Homo sapiens: one gene and its partners. The protein of the gene in region 1 purifies or fractionates together with the protein of each later gene. This does not show direct contact. Each region holds a gene or a part of one and is shown in the gene's direction. Other genes may lie near its edges. The genes, in order: SLC12A3, TMEM131L and SCFD1.

Region 1 (3,072 bases):
TCTGTCACCCAGGCTGGAGTGCAGTGGCAGGATCTCGGCTCACGGCAACCTCTTTGTTTTTTTTTGTTGTTGTTGTTTTTTCTCTTTCTGTAACCTGTGACTCAGGCCTCTTTGGGCATCTTTGGTCCTATAATTTTCTTTGTTTTGGTGGCGGGGTCTTACTCTGTCACCCAGGCTAGAGAGCAGTAGTGAGATCTCAGCTCACTGCAACCCCCACCTCCCGGGACTCAAACAATCCTCCTACCTCAGCCTCCCGAGTAGCTGGGACTACAGGCACATACCACCAGGCCTGGCTAGTTTTTTGTATTTTTTTATGGAGACAGGGTTTTACCATGTTGGCCCAGGCTGGTCTCCAACTCCTGAGCTCAAGCAATCCACCTGCCTTGGCCTCCCAAAGTGCTGGGATTACAGGCATGAGCCACTGTGCCTGGCCTCAAAACTCTATTATAATCACCCCCTCACTCCCACTTTAGAGATGAGGAAGCAGCTTCAGAGAAGTTAAGCAACTTGGCCAGGGTCTTGCAGACAGGAAGTGGGAATTGCATCTGGAGCCTGTGACTGTGGTTCTGATGCAGGGCTGTCTTTCACATCTAGGTTAGATCTGAAGTCGCCTTTCTTTGTGGCTAAGAGATGTAATTCTGAAAAAATGTTCCTTTGTTCTGGAACAGTTTTATTTCTGAAGATTAGTAGCTCAAGGCATGCACATCCTGTGAGCAGGAATAGAGCACGTCATTGACTGGTGTGGGGGCGGGGGTGATTTTCAAGACAGCTGTCTCTCGGACAGGTGGACAGGCTGTGTTGGGGGAGGGAACTCCATGCTGAAGCTTGAAAGTCTGACATAGGTGTGTTGGATGTTCCCCACCCCCATGGTGCAGGCACCATTTCTCTCGTGGCCTTTGAAGTTTCTGAATTCAGTCCCCGAAATCATGTCCTATTTCCTGGATGTTGTCCGCCTCTTGCATAACTGCTCAGTCAGGAGAGTTTGGGCTCAGTACTCCTATGTCCCTTTCTCCTGGAAAGTCACTAAATATTTGAACTCAGATGACTATAGCTTAATGAAATGGCCTTGGTCCAACCCACCTTCCCTAATTTTTGAGACCTTTTGTTTGTTTGTTTGTTTGTTTGTTTGTTTGTTTTGAGACAGAGTCTCACTCTGTTGCCCAGGCTGCAGTGCAGTGGCGCAATCATGCTCACTGCAGCCTCGACCTCCCAGGCTCAAACGATCCTCCCGCCTCAGCATCCTGAGGAGCTGGGACCACAGGCGTGTGCCATCATGCCCAGCTAATTTTTCTATTTTTTGTAAAGACAGGGTCTCACCATGTTGCCCAGGCTGGTCTCAAACTCCTGGGCTCAAGTGATCTGCCCACCTCGGCCTCCCAAAGTGCTGGGATTACAGGTGTGACCATGCCTGGCCCGGGACATTGCTTTTTAAAGGAGGGTAGGGCTTGTCCCAGGTGAAGCTTTGTGGATGGAACTTCCAAGTGTGACATAGCTGTTTAGTATCCCAGTTACCCTTCTCAGAGGAGGTTGGAGTTGCTGTGAGCAGAGGCTGCTGCGGAGGGAAGATGTCAAGACCTCGGTTCGAATTCCAGCTTTGCCGCCGCTGGCTTAGCTGTCGCGTGCTGGTCAGTACTAAGTGGTGATGACAGCTGCTGACCTTACAGAGCACTCACTGTGTGCCAGGCATTGTGCTGTGCCTGCGTGTGCTTTGCCTGTTTTAGCATCACAAACATCCTGCGAGGGAGGTTTTTGTGTTCTTGCTTTAGGGAAGAGAAACTCTGCAAAGGTCATCTGGCTGAGGAAGTGGCAAAGCCACGACTCGGACGCCAGAGACTGGCTCTGACCTCAGCGCTCCAGCATCCTCCTCCCGCCCCAGTTCTCCCACCTGTGAAGGAGCGCGGTGCTGCGGGCCCTGCCCATTCCCCAGGGGGATGTACTTGGGGAAAACAGACACTCAAGTGAGTCCCACGGAAGGTGCTGGTGCCCCCACTTCATGCGGCACCAGCTGGACCTGTGAGACACTGCTGGAGCCCACAGACCCTCCTGGAGCCCAGAGCTGGGCAGCTGTGGCCATCCCAATGCATTTTTGGAATTCTCCAGATAGTAGAAAAGTCACTTCCTGAAATAGTTGGAAGACATGGCTGGACAGCATTCCCAGGGCATCTTTTTATTCACGCAGCATTGCACAGTTAAGACAAGGGGCCTCCCCATAGGCAGCGGTGGAGTCTTGCTCCCAGGGCCTCCTGCACAGGGCAGGAGGCAGGACAAAGACGCTGAGCTGGACAATGAATGAACAGGAACATATCACATTGCTGTGGCCACAGGCTGGCACAGGGCTGGAGAGGCAAGCCTGGCATGAAGCGGGTGGCCTGATAGGGAAGGGTCGCCCACTTAACAAATATATACTGAGCCTGACTGTATCAGACTGTGTTCTAGGCACTGGGAAAAGGGGGGTGAATAAGGCAGATCTGGCCTCCTTGTGAGCGAACATTCTAATGTGGGGAGACAAGCACATAAATCAGAAGATGCTGTTGGGACTGTGGAGGGCTCTGAAGGCAGTAAAGTGGGGTGATGTGAGGAAGAGGCGTGGGCGGCCTGCCCTGGAGGAGTGATCAGGGAGGAGGTGGGTGCACTTGCCTGACTCAAAGGAAGTGACCAGGTGCAGAGCTGGGGCTGCTCCTTTCCTGGTGGGTGGGGAGAACGTCAAGTGCAAAGGTTGGAGGCAGGAGTGAGCTTGGCATTTTTTTAGGAATGGAAAGAAAGCCACAGGGCATCGGGGGTGAGCAAGGCGAGGGTGGGAGGAGGTGAGGTCGTGGGCTTGGCAAGGACTAGATCCCATAGGGCTTGTGGGCCATGGCTTTGTTTAGAAACGCTTCACGGCAGAAGGTCCATTCTGGGTCAGGTTTGTGCGGAAAGTGGGGAGGTCATTCTTAGGGTGGGTGGAAGGAGCTCTGAGGGACGGTAAACAGACTCGCTGTTCTGAAAACAAACTGGGAGCTGGGCGTGTGGAGCGGCCCCGTGGTAATCTCTCTTCTACCACTTTTTCATGCCTTGCAGCACTTTGCCCATAGG
Region 2 (3,733 bases), on another chromosome or scaffold:
TCGCACCACTGCACTCCAGCCTGGGTGACAGAGTGAGACTCCGTCTCAAAATAAAATAAAATAAAATAAAACACAAAACAGCATATTCTGTTCTCACACACGTCCCATTACGTTAAATGCTTCTCCTTTCCTCCATAGTTTGAAACCACAAAGTTGAGATGATTTTTTTTTTCCTTTTTTCCTCCTCCTTCCAACCATAGGGTTGTTATCTGGAATCTGATGATGTTTTGCGTCTACAAATGAGCATAATGGTAACAATGGAAAACTTTTCAAAAGAATTTGAAGAAAACACACAACATTTGTTAGATCATCTCTCTATTGTTTACGTAGCTACAGATGAATCTGAGACCTCAGGTAAGGTGGAATGTTTAAAAATTTTATTATATTTTCATCAGTCTGCATCATCATTCTATAGCATTTATGAACAGATTGTATCATAGCAAACCAAGACAAATAGCCTTTGCTTTAATTATTAAGTGATTGTAGTAGTAACTGGTTCTCAACCTACAACTGCTAAGAAGGCTGTATTATTTTGGGGAGAAGTGACAACTGCAAACTATTCTGAGTTTCCTTAGGAATAATTTTTCTTCATGTTTGGAGACAGTAAGGAAATTAAATGGGCATGACAGTTTAATATAAATATTTACAAAGTATTTGAAGTCTTGGGTTTCTTGTTCCACTTTTAATGATTTGCCTAAGCTCATTTAACCACATCATGCTGTTTTGTATTTTAAATAGCTAATAGGTTGCGGTTGTTCCTGGATGCTTGACAAGTTAGGTAGAATTTTAGTGTTCAGTTTTATGAATTTTATCTTTGGAAATGTGTGTCCTACTTATCAGAAATAAATGCATTCATCTGTTTAACTTCCTAAGAACTTTTTTCAGAGACACATTCTGTGATCCATGAAATTCCTAACGTAGAGTATACTAGTATCTTTTGGTTATCAAGACTTCTGAATGTGACTGTATATTTGTATTCATATTCAAGAAAGTATGGTTTTTATTCTTTGGGTTTTTTTGTTTGTTTTTTGGTTTTGTTTCTGTTTTTGTTTTTTTTAGACAGGATTTTGCTGTGTAGCCCAGGTGGGAGCACAGAGATGTGATCTCGGCTCACTGCAACCTCAGCCTCCTGGGCTCAAGCGATCCTGCCACCTTGGCCTCCCAAGTAGCTGGGACCACAGGCGCACACCACTATGCCTGGCTAATTTAAACCGTTTTTTTTTGTTGTTTTTTTTTTTTTTTTTTTTTTTTTTGTAGAGACAGGTTCTCCCTGTGTTGCTCAGGATGGTCTTGAACTCCTGGGCTCAAGCATTCCTCCCCGCTTGGCCTCCCAAAGTGCTGGGATTGCAAGCATGAGCCACCGTGCCCTGCTTTGGCAGTCTTAATTGGTTAAACAGCCTTTACCTTTCAGTCTTCAGAGCTGGCTGTGGTAGTGCTGGATCAGCAGGAGAGCTCTCCTGTCCTCAGTGCTTGGTGATTCTCATAGTGGCCAGTGAACATCTATGAGGGCAGATCCCTGACCCATGGGGACCACTTCTGTGGGTGAGGGCTAAAAGGAAGCCTGAAACCTGAGATCTCAGGATTTTCTTCTTTCCAAATGTGGTTATCCAAATGAGGAAATGAGGAGCTTTCTAATCAACAGGAGAACATAGCTTTATTTGAAGTCGTCCAGTTGGTTAGTTTCATTCAGAAGAGCATTGTGTGACCCTAAACTCAGAATTTTGCTCCTGGTAGTTCCTCATCATTTAGAGGGCTTAGGTTGGTAGGCATTTTTATGAGGATCTTTTTTCTTGTGATTAAAAAAGAAAAAAAAAAAGAAAACACCTCCTAGTTTTGATTTCAGTTTTGAGAAACAAGTTAACATTTTTTATAGAAATGTGTAATGTGGTATTTTAATGATTATATGAAGGTGTGAGAATGAGATGGCTCTGTTTTAATCTCTGATTAAATACTCTGCTTTAATACTCTGATTCTTTTGGACAGATGATTCAGCAGTAAATATGTATATATTACATTCAGGAAACAGCCTTATATGGATACAGGTAATTGTAAATGCTTACCTAAAGTAACTTTTAAAATTGCAAGTGTGCATTTAATTGTAGAATATGAGGGTTTTTCAGGAACAGAGACAGAAGCACTATCTTTATTCTTTTTTGCTTTAATTTAAGCCCATTTGCCCTTGCTTGAACCTCTGTTTGTATGAAGATTGTCAGCATCCCCTCCATATGGTTATGGCACAGATGCTGAGCAGTTGCTATGTATGGCTGGTCTGTGCTATTTATTCTAACGGTTCATTCAAACTGGATAAATACTCTCCCAGCTGAGAGTAGTCACATGGGACTTTTCTTTTATTTCAGGATATACGCCATTTCTCACAGAGAGATGCTCTGTCTCTGCAGTTTGAACCAGTACTACTACCTACTTCTACAACAAACTTTACAAAAATTGCTTCTTTTACCTGCAAAGGTACAGATTTTTAAACAGATTGTCATTTGACTTTTGTTATCTGGTTGTCATGATGGCAACTCTTTCTACAACTACAGATTAGGCATGGTTTCAAAAAAGTGAAGGGAATGCGTTTGATTTCAAGAAGTCCCAGCCTTAGTAGTTCTAAGATAGTATGATGTAGAAACTATTGTTGATGCCACTTTTATTCTGCCACATATGTAGAATTTTGAGTTTAAAGCTTAATATTCTGTGTTGATAACGATTAGGAAGGAAAGCACTGTTAGGTTTTTGACAGGAGTCTATGCAGGCTGTTTTTGAGGGAAAATTGGCAAATCTCTATGAAAATTTAAAATGCACATATTTACTCTTTGATCCTTAATTCTAGTTTTAAGAGTTTATCCTCCAGATATGTATGTATTCAAAACTGTACCTATAAGAAATGTGTGTTTGTTAGGACAGAACAGCTGATCATCTGTGTTCAGATGTGAGAGAGTGTTCAGAAACATGCATGGACAGCGATGCGAGCAGTGTGTGTACATTTAATTTTTTTTTAGAGGATATCTGTGTACTTATACATGCACAGAACACCTGGAAGGATGTTGCAGAAACTGCTAACAGCTGCCTCCTCCAAGATAATTGGGAGTCAGGGTGAAGAAAGGTAGATTTTATTTTCACATTTTTTTGTTAGTGTTTGAATTTTTAAAAACCATATATATAACTTTAAAAAAGTTGGTTATTAGCATCAGAGAGTTAAGAATTGAACACAAGCGACTCAATATTATAACCTAATCAAGGAGAGCTTAAAAGTATTATTTTGATCAATCAGCACTGCTTTCAAATGCAGCCCACTTTTTGCTGGTCAGCTCCCTTTTGCTCTTTAGGTTTTATTCCTTTCTTGCTCGTGCCTCCACACATTTTACTCTGCCAAGTGAGCTTCTTGTTTCACTTTTGTCATTTCTGGTAGAGAAGTTGGTTTTTAAAAGTATGGACTTCTGGATAATTGGCAACAAAGAAGATGACAGGAACATTTGAGAAAGTAGTTACCTTTTATGTCTGATTCACTATTTTAATGGAGACAGAAAAGTGAATAAAAATTTATAAATAAGACATATATCTTTTGTTCAGGCTTAATGAAAGAAAAGGTACTTAAGCTTCACATTTATTTCTTTATACCACAAAGCAGCTACATCATGTGACAGTGGAATTATAGAAGATGTGAAGAAAACAACACACACTCCAACACTAAAAGCATGCCTCTTCTCTTCTGTGGCTCAGGGGTAGGTTA
Region 3 (3,733 bases), on another chromosome or scaffold:
TCCTTTTTGTTACATGTTGCCCTCATGTAAACCTTGTTTTAGATACTTGTGGAGAGAGTACCTAAGCCTAAAAGCCTAGAAATTTATTCAAAGTACATTAGAAATAATGAGTGATAAAACTGCATTAATTTGCCATGTGATTTACTGTGGGCAGATATACATATCCCATGTGATGCTATGCCCCCTTAAAGTTTAGGGTACTTCATGGGCTCAGTTACTGCTATAAAAGTTATCTAGTGATCATTATGGCTAGAGCCATCATTCTAAACAAACAAAAATATTATTCCTCAGAGAAAAAGAATACTGTTCATCAACAATTATGAAAATATGATTTTTAAAAAATATTTCAAAATGTGTGTGTGTCCTTGATATAGCTGTTCTTTTTGGGCTTATATTTATTGTTTAAAGAGAAGTCGAATATAGACTTGGTTCAACATGCTGGGTTTTTAATATGCTTTATCTTTTTTTTACTTACAACTTTTTTTTAAGCTGGAAAATCAAATCGCCATAACAAAGATTTGACTTTCTCTGCAGAGAAAAGTCACTGTCTTTCTCTTTCTCACTATGGCAGTTTTAGGTACTATTTTAATTAATTTTAATAAATTTGATTTTAAATAATACTCTTCCCTTTGGAATTCCATAATCTACGTTTCCCTCCAGAATGGTGAAGTACAAGAAATTACTTTTATTAGAGAGGCATTATTTATAGAGAATACAGAATATTTTGAAGTTGGCATTCCCTAATAGAGAAAAGCTTAAGAAAAAAATCTCTGTATTCAAATATGGAAATTTTGAATTTTTTTAGAACATATGTTTAAGAACAATTTAAGAGGTCAGTTGAATAGTAAGAATTTTAACCTCCTATTCATTAAGTAGGAATAGCTCTTTTGCTCTGCATCTTACATACAATAGTAACATGGGCACAAAGACACTTGGAGATAGCATAAACAAGTGACCTAAACCTCTCTGAGCTTCAGTTTCCTCATCAGTAAAATAGGGAGATAATAATTCTACCTATTGCCCTATTTCAGAAGGTTGTTGAGAAGATTGAGATAATGAATTTAAAGGAGTAATTTGCCCAAGTCATCCAGCTTTCGTTGGTAAAGCCAGGGATGAAACCCAGGTCTTGCAGACCATAAAGCACCCAGTCTTAACATTGAATAGTTAAGTTATGATAGTTACCTCAACAGATTCATCAGGATTAAATGAGGTTGCAGTGAGCCGAGATCACGCCATTGCACTCCAGCCTGGGCAACAAGAGCAAAACTCCATCTTAAAAAAAAAAAAAAGAAAGAAAAGATAAATTCTTAGCATGGTGTTTGATGTATAGTAAAATCACTTAATAAATGTGAGCAATTATTCTCTGTTAACTCTGAGACCTAAAGATATCAGAGATTTTGAGGATTATCCAGTTCAACCCACACATTTTACAGATAAAGCTAGGGCCCTGAGAGGGTAAGAGCTTGCCTGTAAAGGAAGTTTCCATTATAATTAGATGGAACAAGGGTTTCTGACTCCCCAGTGCAATGCTGAGGCCTCAGTGCTATTTTTTGCCAACATAGACTCAACTGGAGCTGGAGTAAATGCCTGTGCTTGTGAGGTAAAATTGGACTGTGTTCCTCAGAATCCTTTCTGAGCTCCTGTCTTTTCTGCTAGTCTCCATTGGATAAAATGTGCTTGTTATTAGAGAGGTATTTTCAGATGTCAGAGCTGAGGAAGGGGGGAAAGGTTTTTGTTCACTGTTAATGAGACATGACCTTTTCTTTCTTAAAGGAGAAAAGGCTTCTGGCCTCCCCCTAGGCTGTAGATGAAAAATACTCATTTTAAGAAACATTTAATGATCAACATGTATTCACCTAGAGTTTGTCAAGATTAGTACAGTGTTTTCTACCTGAGTGCTCATGATTGCAGATCACTTCTGCCTAAAGTCTATGTAAGTTACTGCTAAACCACAATGTCCTGGTAGAAGACATCAGGTATTAGGCCACCAAAACTGTGGCCCAAGTGCTATTTTTACCAGTAGTGTTCTGGGATATTATGAGTTCTGAGTTACAAGAATTTTTTCACAGTTACTTGCAGGTGATATTTTTAAATGCTGTCTTTGTAGTTGCATGGACCCTTTGACATGACGTGTTAATTTGGATGGGAATATTTAATTGATATTTGATATAACATGACTTGTCTTCCATTGATTTTCAGTCATGTAAATATTTTACTTTTTCTTCTAAAAACGTATAAGTGAAGAGAATGTATGATACTGTTAATGAAAAATAGAAATGAAATTTAAATTTTAGATGTATATTATATGCATTTTAAAGAAATAGTATTATATAGATATCAGAAAGATATGTAGTTGTATTTGTGCTGAATCTTTTCTGCCTTTGTTATATATAACATATATTCAAATCCAAATAAGTATATTTAAAATAATAAATGTTCATTGTATATATTTTAGAATTTACACAAAAATTGGTCTTTTAATGTCATCCTCATAGTTCTTGTGCAATACTGTTTTAGTCCATTCCCAGAAGTTGCAGAATCAGTTCAGCAAGAACTAGAATCTTACAGAGCACAGGAAGATGAGGTCAAACGACTTAAAAGCATTATGGTAAGATTCTATTTGCTTTCTAAGAATTATAGGAAAGAGGAGGATTATCTGTTAGATAAAGAGATTTGGGTTTTTTTCCTTATAAAAATTGAAGGCCATTTAATGCTTTTATAACAAAAATATTTTCAACTTGCGTAAGTGATCAAAAAGAAATCTAAATATTGAGAAGAGAAAAAATAATATATGATTTGAAAAAATATATAATGTAGCATCATTTTAGAGATGTATGTTCCAATGCTGCTCATTCTACCATACTTCGATGTAACTTCAGATTTCAGCTCTACTGTTTATTGCTGTGTGACCTATGGCACGTCTCTGGGCCTGTCTCCTTATCCAAAAATGCCAGCTGATCATTTAGACATCTAACCATTAGACTGGCGATTACTAGAACTTTTATGTAACATTAAAATATATATGCTTGCACCTCAGAGGAGGAGAATTACTATTCTAGGTGACTTAAAAATCTTACGGTATATCAATAATCTTAGGATATTTGCTCCAATCTTAGGATGTGTTGATTTTTATGCTTGTGCCTGGGATTTTTGAGTAGCTATTGAGACCTTTTTTCTTTACAAGGGACTAGAAGGGGAAGATGAAGGAGCCATAAGTATGCTTTCTGACAATACCGCTAAGCTAACATCAGCTGTTAGGTAAGTGAGCAGTATATCCTCTTTGAAGTCTTTCTGTTGATAGGATTTTTTTTTTATTTAACTAAAAAATTGTTAATGTTTTTAACTAGTAGGAAACTGTAGGCAATAGCAAATATAACTTTGAATTTAAAGAACTAAATTGTATTTAGCTAAATGTTTAAGCCGATTTTAGTTCCCTCTTAGATATAGGAGATTATTCATTCTTTCACCAGTTAGAACTGTGTAATAGGGGTAATTTTATGAGGAAAATACTATTAATGATAAAGTAGGGCAAGCGATTATTAATTTTATTATAGATACTGTTTTCTTAACTAAAAGTTAAACAGTTTTTTCTGTACTTTGAATGCCATTAAGGAGGGAGGAGGCTGGGCGCGGTAGCTCACGCCTGTAATCCCAACACTTTGGGAGGCTGAGGCGGGCAGATCACAAGGTCAAGAGATTGAGACCATCCTGGCCAACATGGTGAAACTCCATC

The links.
Region 2: the proteins of SLC12A3 (region 1) and TMEM131L purify together in Homo sapiens (affinity purification with mass spectrometry; one large-scale study listed by BioGRID and IntAct). This does not show direct contact.
Region 3: the proteins of SLC12A3 (region 1) and SCFD1 purify together in Homo sapiens (affinity purification with mass spectrometry; one large-scale study listed by BioGRID and IntAct). This does not show direct contact.

What each region holds. Positions count from the first base shown.
Region 1 is NC_000016.10:56,910,207-56,913,278, forward strand, and holds part of SLC12A3 (solute carrier family 12 member 3), read left to right. Parts: intron 1-3,057; coding exon 3,058-3,072. UniProt on the Homo sapiens protein: Electroneutral sodium and chloride ion cotransporter, which acts as a key mediator of sodium and chloride reabsorption in kidney distal convoluted tubules.
Region 2 is NC_000004.12:153,581,207-153,584,939, forward strand, and holds part of TMEM131L (transmembrane protein 131-like isoform 1 precursor), read left to right. Parts: intron 1-200; coding exon 201-354; intron 355-1,983; coding exon 1,984-2,042; intron 2,043-2,357; coding exon 2,358-2,466; intron 2,467-3,628; coding exon 3,629-3,725; intron 3,726-3,733.
Region 3 is NC_000014.9:30,670,740-30,674,472, forward strand, and holds part of SCFD1 (sec1 family domain-containing protein 1), read left to right. Parts: intron 1-2,517; coding exon 2,518-2,608; intron 2,609-3,184; coding exon 3,185-3,258; intron 3,259-3,733. UniProt on the Homo sapiens protein: Plays a role in SNARE-pin assembly and Golgi-to-ER retrograde transport via its interaction with COG4. Involved in vesicular transport between the endoplasmic reticulum and the Golgi.